Homo sapiens: one gene and its partner. The protein of the gene in region 1 interacts with the protein of each later gene in a biochemical or structural test. Each region holds a gene or a part of one and is shown on either strand. Other genes may lie near its edges.

Region 1 (7,030 bases):
TTAGGAGGCAGGAAGAGTTGGCAAGGCAAAGGAATGTCCTCTCTGCCTATCCTTCAAACTTGACACCTCTATACTTCATGAGAGGGCTTTCTTGACTTCTACACTTCTGGTGGGCCTACCCCTTCTGGCAACGCCAACTCTCCTTTTCGCTTGTCATATACAATTTAACTCAATTTTATATATAGTTAATAGTTCTCTGATATTTCACATACGGGACTCTTTCTTGGTCTTATATGACCAGAATGTTATTTTTTAATGTTTATTTTAAGTTCAGGGGTACATGTGCAGGTTTGTTACACAGGTCAACTTGTGTCATGGGGGTTTGTTGTATAGACTATTTCATCACCCAGGTATTAAGGCTCATACCCATTAGTCCATTAGTTATTTTTCCTGATTCTCTCCCTCCTGCCATCCTCCACCCTCTGAAAGGCCCCAGTGTGTGTTGTTCCCCTCTATGTCTCCATGTGTTCTCATCATTTAGCTCCCACTTATAAGTGAGAACATGTGGTATTTGGTTTTCTGTTCCTGTGTAAGTTTGCTTAGGATAATGGATGGAAGGATGTTTGGTGTGGTTTCGTTTTGAAGCCCACTCAGCCATGTGTTTCTGATTGCTTTCAAGCTGCCATTCATAGGTTTCCATTTAAGTTCATTTTTATTTAGAAACAGTGAAGATAAAATGCAGATTTGCTGACACTGTTCTGTCACTTACGGGTAAACTATATGGGCTTAAAATGGATATAATTTAAGCATAATTCATATTTTTTTAAAAAATGAATTGATTCATCCACTATGTATATGAAGAACTTGAGATTTTTGCTAGCAAGGATGTGTGTGGACCACTCTACTTAGACTTTTGCTGTATCTTCTCTGTGACCAGTGTCATTTTAAAGGATATTCCCTATTTGGGGTCACAAAACAGATAAAATTTATCTGGCTCATTCATGACATAGCTGCAGTTACTGGTGTCATGGGTTGAATGGTGTCCCCCCACAAAGATATATTAAAGCTCTAACCGCCTGATAACTCAGAGTGTGATTTTATTTGCATAAAAGTTTGTTACAGATGTAATCAGTTAAGATGAGATCAACTGGAGGAGGAGGATAACTGGTATGCTTATAAGAGGAGGAAAATTTGGATACAGACACAGACACAGAGGGAAACAGCCAAGTGAAGACTGAGACTGGAATTGTGCTGCCACAAGCCACGCAATGCATGGGGCTACCAGGAGATGAAAGAGGCAAGGAAGAATCTTCTAGAGGCTTCTGGAAGGGCATGGGCCTACAGACATCAGAACTATGAGACAATAAACTTCTGTTGTTCTAACCCACCCAGTTTGTATTACTTTGTTTTGCAGTCCTAGGAGATGAATACACCTACATTTTAGTGACATTTCCATACCTTAGATGAATAAAATCATCTTTTTAAAAATCATACCTCAGTTTGTACCAAATAATTTCTTTGTGAACGGATGTGTTTTAAGAAGCCAAATATGTTGACAGTTCCTTCGTGTTGAATCTGCTGCAACATACTGTCTAGCACAATATATGTGCCTGTTCTTCCAACTCCAGCACTGAAGAGAAGACCAAGAAATAAATATTTCAATGTTAAGCATAAAATAAATTTGAAAAATAGATCACTACTGGTTGTCATGTTGATTAAAATAACTTCCTTCTTCAAGCGAGTGAGCCACACAATACATTTGGCAATTCAATATTGTAAACAGTTTAGTAATTAAGCGTAATGCTTTACACAACAAATTTAGAAGTACCCTTTCTAATGTTTTGTCATGTGTCTAATTGCAAAACAACCTCACTATATCTGTTGGAGATTTTAAAACTTTCAAAAACCATATTTATTATTCATTGTATATTGTACAATGAAAATATTATGTATCAGAGTGTGGCAAATAGACATTTAATCTGACAAAAGTGAAAGCTTTAACTTCACCAAATTCTGAAAAGAAAAAGTCCCTAGGTCTATGTTTCCAGGTAGACATGTTTGTAAAGATTTCTGCGTTAATGGGAAAAAGAATTTGATAAAGCTTTCTGCTGAAAATATCATTTCAGTGAGATTGTGAGGAATAAAGCATGACTTCAGTTATTTCTAAAGGGCCATTATCTATCGACTTCTTCAAAGCCTCTAGCAGAGGGACAGAATTCACGGACAGGGATTCTTTTCAAATGTTCCGACAAGTAGGAAGTGCTAGAGTGGAAAATTAGCACCTGCTCTGCACAATAGCCTGGTCCTTCTCCGTTTGCTAGGAAACAATCCCTGACCTTCAGCACTATTTTTCTTGCATCTTCCTGTTTTCCTCAGTTTATAATCAGGCTAACAGATTAAAAAGCCTCAAGATGGGTCTCTCAAATTTAACTCCTGAGATGGTAATTAGAATGTGTTAGATAAGCTATATATCAAAGGCAAACACTTGATTCTCTAAAAACACACTGCTTTGATAACAATACTTCACATAGAAACAAATTTGATTTTTGTGATCTAAGGCTTGGCACACAGTCAGCACTCAATAAATATTAACTGCTATTATTATTTTAACTGAAAACATTAAATAAGGATTTTCAACATTTTTCCTCTTTCATTGAAACATCATTATTTCTATTTATCAACCTAGTCTTGGAAATTAAAAAATCTTGGCAACAATGAATTGACAATACATTCAATGTAATGTATTAAAACTCAAGAAAATGAAAAAGGGATTCTGGTCCCAAAATGTTTAAAAACAACTTAAATATATTTTGCCAAATTTCTCACAATCTGTGTGCTTTGGCTTCTGTGATACAAGCCTGGCATAATAATTCTAAAACAGAATTTTAACTCCTAGGGACAGGGGTTGTAGCTCAAGCATTTTTATCCCATGGTATTATATGTTGAGGTAAATATTTGTTTAACAACAAAAACATTGTTCCACCTGCCTCAAATAGTTAATAAGCTGAAATGCAGTTGAACAATCAAATAAAATAATCAACATCAAAAAATATGTGGTGCTTAGAAATATTCAGCAATCCAATTCTGAGTCTGGCATGTTCATTTCCTAGTGATCAATACTTATGAAAATGAACATATAATTTCATCACCCTCATTTCAAGAAATCATTCCCATTTGGGCAAAAGCTTTGTTCCATTGATTTCCTTTTTGCAAGTATAAGCAATTCTATGGGTTTAGAGGCACATCTCTGAGACTCACCTGCAGTGGACGACAACAGGCCCCACTGCATGGCGCTTGGCATAGGCTGCCTTTCTCACAAAGGTCAGCACTGGCAGGGAGTACTCTGGTACTCCCATGTCAGGCCACTGCGTGTAGTGATACTGTGTGACCACACGTCCACTGGGTCTTCCTTTCTGGGAGCCCTGGAAAAGTTCAGACAGTTAATAACAGTCAAACACACACACACACACACACACACACACACACACACACACACACACACACACACGGTTCTTCAACAGCAAGTCAGGAATCATAGCTTGATTTGATGTTGAGGGTCCATAATGAATGAAAGAAAGTAGAGTGTCATTTGTGATGGTTAATTTTGTGTCCACTTGGCTATACTATGGTGGCCCATTGTTTGGTCAACACTAATCACACAAAATGTTGCTGTAAAGGTATTTTGTTTAGATGTGATTAACATGTAAGTCAGCAGACTTTGAGTAAAGCAAATCATAGTCCATAATGTGGGTGAGCTCCATTCAACCACTTGAAGGCTGTAAGAACAAAGACTGATAGGATAGGTTACCTGAAGAATAAAGAATTCTTCTCAACAGTGCAACGTAAAGATCCTACCAGAATTTCTAGGCTGCCAGCCTGTCCTACAGGTTTAAGATTTGCTAATCCCCATGATCATGTGAGTCAATTCTTAAAAATGTAAACCTCTCTATCTCTCTATTCTGTTGGTTCTGTTTCTTTGAAGAACCTGAGTAATACGTTATTCTTCGTGTTTCCTTTCTTTTTCTTGTTTCACTCTCCACTCTTTTTAGTTGAATATTGGGATTGTGTCAGGGCCATCCTATGCAGTTGCCACACAAGGTAGGAATTTCTGTTCATGTATCACATTCACTTTAAACATCAGCAACAAAACCAGTCTGGCTCCAAAGCCACAACAGGCATCTAGAGACCTGAAAGAAACCTTTAGGACTGACGGCAGCTGTGATAAGAATTCTTTTTTTTTTTCTTTTCTTTTTTTTTTGACAGAGTCTCACTCTGTTGCCCAGGCTGGAGTGCAGTGGCATGATCTTAGCTCACTGCAACCTCTGCCTCCTGGGTACATGTGATTCCTGTGCTTCAGCCTCCCAAGTGTGCACCACCACACTCAGCAAATTTTTGCATTTTTAGTAGATATGGGGTTTCACCATGTTGGCCAGGCTAGTCTCGACCTCCTGACCTCAAGTAATTCACCCACCTTGGCCTCCCAATGTCCTGGGATTACAGGCATAAGCCATGCACCTGGCCTGGTTACAAGAATTTTTAATGCCTTTAGTTATATGCTTTTTACCCTTTCTTGGTTCTATCGCTTATTCACTTAAAAAATGACCAAATGCATTGTTCACTTGATTATGCCCATCATTTTGTTGACTCACCTTTTTTATTTTTGTGTTTCTTAGAGTAAAATTCCTCACAGTATAATAGGCAAGCACTTGCACACTCTTCTGAGTGACCAGAAAGTTCCCGTACTCCTCACTCCCATCGGCAGGCCAGTACTGATCACATTTTCTCTGCAAAAGAAAATGTAGATGTTACTTCTGTATTTCAAATGCTCCATGTAAAAGTCATTCCCTGAAATCAGTAAAGGTCTGAGATGGTGACAGGAATGGACTCCTTCACTCTTCTAAATGTTTTATTTTCTTTATAAGTGACTGAAATTAGTTGTGGAGGAGGCTAGGGATAGAATCTGAGAGCTGAACGAGACTGAGATGAGGTACCCTAAAATTTCCCCTTTCAGATAAGGCAAGTGAGTCAGAAGATTCAGGTTACAGAGCCAAGACTAAAATCCATGTCCTGTGAATTAAAATCGATTTCACTCTACATTGCTTTTCAATGAGTCCCATTTACTTCTCCCACAGTATGAAGAATGCGTTTAAAAGGCAGATAGCATGATTCATAATGAAACTTTTTGACTAACAGTATTAACAGTTTCCCTTTAGCTGTCATATTTACTAAAAAAGAATCCCAAATAACTCTCAAAACTTTGGCTCCTTCCTAATGCTGACTCTATTAAAACTAATTTAAAGTACCTCTAATTACTTTTTTGGGGGTGACATAACAGATTATCTACATACCCTTCCTTTCTCCACGAGGTTTGTTATCATGACAATAACTTCCACATTATGTTCCCATATCATTCTCCAGAAATCTTCAGCTGTGGATTTCAGTGGGCCTTGGGCAGCAATATAAGCTTTTGGTCTGTTGTAGCCCTGAAGAATTAAATGACAAATGTTTCCTACTAACTGATTTATATGTCATCTTTAACTGTACAATGCCTAAGTTTTTAAGGTCAGCATAATTTTTCGTAAAAGAAAACCATAAAAAATAAACTTGCAAAGTTGGAGAAATTTGATGGTACCAACTAAGATAGCTACTCTTGGTTAGAAAATACTCTTGGTTAGGAAGCAGAAGGATCCCTATCATTTTTGTAAAAAAAAAAAAAAAAAAAAAAAAAGAATAGCTCTCTTTGCTTTGACACAACTATAATTCTGTGCATTTGTATTCCAAGTGTATTTAATCCATTTGCGGTCTACTTGCTATGCTTAAAATCAAGTCTTTAATAGCACTGCTTTGAAATGTATTTTAGGCACTGGGCTCAGATGTCTACAACAGCTTAAAAAAGCATCTGGAGTGTAACCTCCTTACTCTACTTCAACGTGCTGAGAAGTGCTAATCATTATTAGCAATTCGTCACTGTGTCCCATTTTGTACAAGATGTTTTATGGGCATAATATGGATTGGCTGTTTTCCCACCCAAATCTCATCTTAAATTGTAGTTTCCATAATTCCTGTGTGTTGTGGGAGGAACCAGGTGGAAATAATGGAATCATGAGGGTGATTTCCCCCACGCTGTTCTCGTGAGAGTGAGTGAGTTCTCATGAGATCTGATGGTTATAAAAAGGGCTTTCCTCCTTACTGGGCACTCATTCTCTCTCCTGCCATTCTGTGAAGAGGTGCCTTTCACCATGACTGTAAGTTTCCCGAGACCTCCCTAGCCATGCAGAACTATGAGAAAATTAAACCTCTTTTCTTTATAAATTACCCAGTCTTGGGTATTCCTTCATAGCAGTGTCCTTCATAGACTAATACAGAACGTGAACCTTAATCTTTCATCTATGCAAAATGGAAGCATCAACCCTGATGTGGAGATGAGGAACCTAAAGCTCAGAGGAGTTAAGTGGCTTTCCAAAGTCCCACAGCTAGCCAGTGGCAGAGATGGGATTCAAAATCAGTTCTAACTCCAGATCTCATGTTCATTCTGACATGCATATTTCCTCCTCAGGAAGCATGAAACAGTTGCCTGTAACAAACCCACTTTATACTTATGTACTCATTTATTTGAATTCAGTATTCCACACAGTATTAACCTGAAGCCAGCTAGACTGAGAGGTGCATCTTAGGGAAGTAATTGAGTTCTGCTGACATTCAGGTGATCACAGTGAAAAACCAATTTAGTTAGTGAGCGGTCTACAGTCTCTGGAGAGTCCCAGTAAGTTCCACAAAGCTGGGTATCCTGAGGAATACCCAAAATTATAAAGGTTGATAACTGGATTAATAATCATGTTTGCCTTTTAATCAGTACTACTATGGAAATTTTTTGTTCATCAGCTAAATGCACATCCTTGTGCCAGGAGCTATGGGAAACTTAAAATAAGCCTTGGCCCTGCCCTTCACATTTTTTTTTTTTCTGAGACGGAGTCTCACTCTGTTGCCCAGGCTGGAGTGCAGAAGTGCGATCTCGGCTCACTGCAAACTCTGCCTCCCGGGTTCACGCCATTCTCCTGCCTCAGCCTCCCGAGTAGCTGGGACTACAGGC
Region 2 (6,507 bases), on another chromosome or scaffold:
AACCAGAATCCAGGGTGAAGCAAGCTTCATGAAACAGGAAGGGAGATGAGAATTCCAATGCGAAACCACGATCAGAACACAGGAGAAAATGGGAAGGCAGGACACAGGCAGCCGTGGGATGCAGTTTTCTGGGCCCAGCCTGTCTCAGGACTCAGAAGCTTTACCTGTAGCAGACTCCTCCTATAGATTCATGCCATTATGCAGATACCTCTATTCCAGACTCGCTCATTCAGGGTTACAAAGTCTCATTTTCTTAGCATCTAGCAGCTGGCTTTAGTGTTTCACTTTACATTGAATGATATTCACTGACATCTTTATGGGTTGAAGTTATTTACCAGGTGAACTTATTTCAATGTAATAATGACTCTGTGTGTGTTTCTATGTGTGTACTTTTTGTAGTACTTCAAATACTGAACTGTTGCTTAACCAGAATATTTATTCCCTGCTATCGAACTTGTAATGAAAACCTTCTAAAAAATTTAAACTTGAGGTAAATTGAAAGGACAGTTGTTCTTTCTTGGGTAACATAAGACATTTATTACTTTATACTAATTTTTTCATTCATAAAAAGGACAAAGCACAGTCCTATACTACTCCATTGAAAAAATGATAAAAAATAACTAAAAAATCAATTCAATATTTATCAGTATCAAATAAAACTACTATCACCTTTCCTGAAATACAAAGAAACAACAGATGTATCTATACCTATATAAAGTTTAATTCAGAATCTTGCGTCTTAAAGCAGATGATTATTAGTTAGCTTGACAACAGTTTAAAACTGATGGTCCCAGTTAAATCTGTACAACTGTATGAGAAAATGAAAAGCTTGAGTTATCAGTGTACGAGAGATTTTAAACTACTTTATCTCTGTCAGAAATTCAAAACTAAACAACCTCCAAAGTCTGTTTTCCTCTTACCTTTCAGAACCATTTCATGCAAAATCTAACCAGTTTTGCTCGTTATTATCATATATTAGAAAATAAAAGGCAAGCATGCATTTGGCAAAAGATTTAGTTGTTGATTATATAAAAATGCCCAACATGGGTCACATTGCAAAAGTAAAACCCCAAAGTGTAACAATGAAAACACAAACATTTGTACAGAAGGTATACAGGGTATTCGTTTCCCTAAAGTATGAAGACATTTTGTTTCTTTTTCAAATACTTAAATATTTTATGAAATCTGGCAATGATCTTAAGACTGTTGACATACTTCCACTGGGAAATCATCCATTTCACTTATTTTTAAAAGTTTCATTTTATACCAGAGTTAAATGTAAACTAATGAAATATTTATTGATATTTTCATAATGAAGACTCTAAACATTTACACATCGATATATAGTACAAAAATTATACAAATTAAAGAAAGGGGGTAAAGTCGGTAAAGTAGTAATAGATCTATTTTGCTTCCTGTAAATATTTTTTACGAACCTATACGGTGTCCTTTCTAAAAAGATAAACTCTAATTAGCTAGCAAGTTTGTGCTAATAAAATAGGATTATACCTCTTGAAGCATCCAACACTGCACTATTTCACAAGCCAGCTAATTCTTTATTACTCGATTTCTTTTACATCCACACTCAAACACATTTCCATGCACACCATGGAGAATGAAGAAATGTGCATCTTCCTTTTCACAACTTATAAAAACCCAAAGCACCAACACTTGGGAGACACCATCGGAAAGACATATTATTTGCCTCCTCCTGGCCTTCCAGTTTTGCATACTCTTCAAAGTACCATTAGCAGTATATTGATTTGGTATTTTTAGCCAGTTTTCAGTATTGCATTGAAGTGGGAAATGAGCTTAAAACTAATTATTATTATTATTATTATTGTTATTTTTACAAAATGGAATACGGTAGCTTTTTCAACCTACAGGTGACTTTTTGATCTGACATCTGCAATAAAGAAACGTAATACTTAGGAATGAAGCAGAAAAACCAACATACTAGTAATTGTGATATTCACTTAACTGTCACTTATTCCTAACCATGTAAAGACTGTCACATCTCAATAAAAAAGGAAGCACTCTACTTTTCAAAATTTGTCACTCCACATATGAACAAATATAGCAATATTATGATACTCTAGATAAGAGCTGTGATTTTTGAGATTTGAAATTGATAAGAAAAGCATAAAATAACTTCAGAGTAGAATATAAAAGTAAAAAAAAATCTATATGGTATGTTAACTTTACTATTAAAAAACTGATTCTGAAAATCAAATATTTAGAAAATTATTTCCTTTGAAAATAAGAATACTGATAGTAAGTTCTAGAATTTGGTTTTCAATAGTCAAAATCTTTCAACTCATGATTTGATAATGGGATTTCTGACAAAATATTTGTTACACTCTATTGTCTTTTCAAGAAAACTCAAGATGTCATGAATGATAGGGGCCATTCAATAATATGCAGTACCCAAAACAGTGAGGAAAGTACAAGAGACTGTATTACTCTTACATTTACCACATACAACCAACATTTCAATCTCTATTATATTTCACAACTTGTTATTAAATTTAAAGCACCTGTATATGGTGATTTGACTTTCACTCTACAGCCTATAGTATTGAATTGAACACTGTAACTTGTCCCATTGGGTTAAATCATGCAACTGTCACAGAATCAGGTTAAGTGGTTTATAAGGCATATTGGAACGAGTTAAAAATCATTTATATCCATTTAAAAGTTTATTCTTTTGGATGAAGGGGTTCCCGAATGCCTCAGTCATCATGTGTGTTGTAAATCAGTTGAATAGTTTGTTAAAGTATAATTTATTTGGCTTAGGATGGAGCCGCAGAAATTGGAAGGAATTGTGGTCATCCCAGGGTTGAAGGGTGTCTTCTGAGCTGGGATGGGAACAGCAGCTGTCACAACACATTCAGAATTCCAAGTAGACAAGGATGCCAAAGGCAGGCAGCAGTAAGCCGAGAAGACTTGGGGATAGGGTGGGTGCACCTGCAAGGTAAACCAAAAGTGTGCATATTATTTCATTGATACATGTCACTATTGCTCATTTAGTCTGCTTCAGCTAAGGCGAGATTGCATAGCCCTGGAAAACAAATGGGTCCTTTCACAAAACAGAATCTCTTATTCTTACATGATTTAAGAAAAACAAAAGCTTTTGATCAAAGATTTTCTGTGTGAGACCATGTGAACTGTTTACACAACATGATTAATCATTTAAAATAATATGATCACAAATGTGTATGCTGTCCCTATGATCCAGCAGTCCCAAATTCCTACCAGAAGGCAAAATGTCAAGAAACATATATACATGCATTAAAAAAGTAAGTTTTAAAAATAAGATAAAGTTGTGGGGTGGGGGGAGTGGGGAGGGATAGCATTAGGAGATATACCTAATGCTAAATGACGAGTTAATGGGTGCAGCACACCAACATGGCACTTGTATACATATGTAACAAACCTGCACATTGTGCACATGTACCCTAAAACTTAAAGTATAATAATAATAAAATGTAAAAAAAGAGATACAGTAAAAATACTAATAATTTTTCCTGAAACAATGACAACATAGGTATGCTAGGTAAATCTTGCATAATTTCACATCCCAATGGTTTTAAGACATTTATACATTTATACAGAATGACTTAAGTAATGTATTTCTGATATTAAATAATCTCATTCAATTTTTATCTAAAGAACAATTGCCCTGAGATATTACACTGTGAATTAAAAATTGAAATGATGTATTATAATATGCTATGGACTTAATTTACGTCTTGGGTGACACTTAGAAGGGCTACTCCTGTAGTCAAGTAAGTTTATGGGTCCGTGTCCTGCCGACATGAGAATTTTTGAGAAACTATTGTAAAGTAGGACCAAAAAGTCATACTCTTTCTTCCCAATGTCCACAACTATTAGGCACTATCTTCTTTTTAAATAAATTAATTATTATTTTTTAAGATACAGGGTCTTGTTCTATTGCTCAGGCTGGAGTGCAGTGGTTCAGTCATAGCTGACTGCAGCCTCAAACTCCTGGGCCCATGTGATCCTCCTGCCTCAGTCTCCCAAAGTGCTGGGATTACAGGCATAAGCCACCATGCCTGGCTGGCACTATCTTCAATGAACATGCTGCTAGAATGAGTGAAGACCTAAAAAATTTAGTCAATGGCTTACTAATATAACAGTTTTCATTAATTTTTGGAAGTTTACTCTCTAAATTTGAAACCACCAAATAAATTATTATTATCTATCACATTAAAAGTGACCATAAACAGCTCATTCTTTGGCATGGTCCTTTTATATTCAGGGAGATTTAGTGCATTTCTCCTGAATCTCTGGTCATTAAAAGCACATTCATGTTCCCTATAAGGTGGAAGATAATAGTGTCTGTCTGCTTGCTTGTCTTCAACATTGCCCTGCCTGGGGCTTTTGGAGCTGCCTGGAAACATAAGAGGGAAAGCTTTATCGGATACAGATAAAGTAGTTCTTAGAAATGAGCAGGAAAGTGAGGGTCAAAAGGTGAGGGCAGATAACAAGGGGAATATAAACAGCCCTCAAGTAGCAGAGCTCCTAAGGACACTATCAATAACAATAGTAAACTTATCATTACTTTGAGAGATGCTACTTACTGCCCTACAGCCAGCTACAAGACTATGTTGGCTCATTATGTAGATTATGACATGACTACAACAACCTACAATGGTAGGTCTTTTACCCTAATTTTATATATTTTGTAACTGAGTCAGGTAAAATGAGTTGCTCAAGTCCAATAGTCACTAGAGGGCAGAGAAGGGATTAGAATTCAAATTTGTCCAGCTGCAAAGGCCATGCACTTTTGACCTCTCTGCCGTGTTCTTGCAGGTAGCTTTAGCAAGGGACTGGTTTTAGAAATGCAGAAGGAAACTGCGCTCTGCACTTAATGTATCAAGGCAAGGGCACAGAAGGAAAATAATAAATGTCATATGGAAAAAAGCTAACACATAAACTGTTTCAAAGAGATCTTTGTATTCTTGTAATTTTTTTTATCTTCTACTTTTCTACAAATTTTTTAAAATATGCCACAGACCACACATTATTTTATTCTGATAAGATGCCCAATAATAAACCTCAATCACACAGTAAAACCTTTAAACGTCAATGTTTGACCCAGTGTAAATGATCCATCCTGAAGCCTTTTTTTTTTTATTATACTTTAAGTTTTAGGGTACATGTGCACATTGTGCAGGTTAGTTACATATGTATACATGTGCCATGCTGGTGCGCTGCACCCACTAACTCGTCATCTAGCATTAGGTATATCTCCCAATGCTATCCCTCCCCCCTCCCCCACCCCACCACAGTCCCCAGAGTGTGATATTCCCCTTCCTGTGTCCATGTGATCTCATTGTTCAATTCCCACCTATGAGTGAGAATATGCGGTGTTTGGTTTTTTGTTCTTGTGATAGGAATTGGAAATCATCATTCTGAAGCCTTTTTTGTCTGAGGATGACTGCAGGGTCTCCACAATGCTCTGTCTTTTGACCACAAATTACATCTATCATGGGGACATGTTTATGTACTTGGCTGAATATGTGGGTTGGCAAAGTACAAACTGTGGCTGCTCGAAAGAAATTTAGTGAATTGTGGATGCCATCTTGATGTTTTGGTACTAGTATGAAAACCAAATACAATTTCATAATTTGTGGCTTTGACATCAGGATATTTGAAATAAACTCTCCATGTTTACGTGTGTTATATTTAATTTCTCTAATGGCTCAAGCTTATGTAATTTTGGTCTTCATCTTTACTTCTATCCCACATTCCAAACAGAAATTAGAGACCGAATTGAAGTACTATCTAATGTCATTTTAAATGACATATATTCTTGAGGAGTTTTTCAATATATATTGGTTTTGAATCTAACAACATATATATCAGAATACTGCTATCAATCATAATTCTGGTACTTATGTGTTATATAGTAAACACATATTTTGCTTTTCACATAGCTGATGAATGTTAAACCTGAACAAATCATTGATCTTGTGAATAATTTTTCTCTATCAGAAGAAATGTAAAACCAATTTGGAGTACTATATCTCTTCCATGGGAATTCTTGATTTTTTTTTAAATCTAAACTTTGATTTCATACTTCCTTCAGGGAGAATTCCCGCTATATGGAGAGTGATGCTGAAAACAGACATTTCAATTAAAAGTTGAGCAGTACTGCAGGCTTTCTGATAAGTAGAAAACTGCTCTACTTGGTTTTTAATACAAACTTCCTTTCTGATTCTTCAATCTGGACACTGTGATGCAGTCTTTGTTTCTACTGCTTGCCTATTGCTGACGATGCCATAACATTTAGAATTTTCTCTTTGTGGTGTCACATTTTGTGACCACAACTGCTAATATCTCTATATTATGAACAACTTCAAGACAGAGATGATATCCAAATTATGTTTTAGCTGTGTTGACTAATACCAAGCCTAGTGCATAGAAAGTACTCAACCTATAATGTTAAATGATTGAGTTATGCCTCCATTGTAGGCCCTG

Evidence for each region.
Region 2: the proteins of PTPRZ1 (region 1) and CNTN1 are reported together in a solved structure, tested with the Homo sapiens proteins (one study listed by IntAct).

The regions. Positions count from the first base shown.
Region 1 is NC_000007.14:122,037,148-122,044,177, reverse strand, and holds part of PTPRZ1 (receptor-type tyrosine-protein phosphatase zeta isoform 1 precursor), read right to left. Parts: intron 5,424-7,030; coding exon 5,289-5,423; intron 4,725-5,288; coding exon 4,590-4,724; intron 3,363-4,589; coding exon 3,199-3,362; intron 1,571-3,198; coding exon 1,435-1,570; intron 1-1,434. UniProt on the Homo sapiens protein: Protein tyrosine phosphatase that negatively regulates oligodendrocyte precursor proliferation in the embryonic spinal cord. Required for normal differentiation of the precursor cells into mature, fully myelinating oligodendrocytes.
Region 2 is NC_000012.12:41,066,419-41,072,925, reverse strand, and holds the end of CNTN1 (contactin-1 isoform 1 precursor), read right to left. Parts: intron 2,968-6,507; coding exon 2,891-2,967; 3' UTR 511-2,890; downstream 1-510. UniProt on the Homo sapiens protein: Contactins mediate cell surface interactions during nervous system development.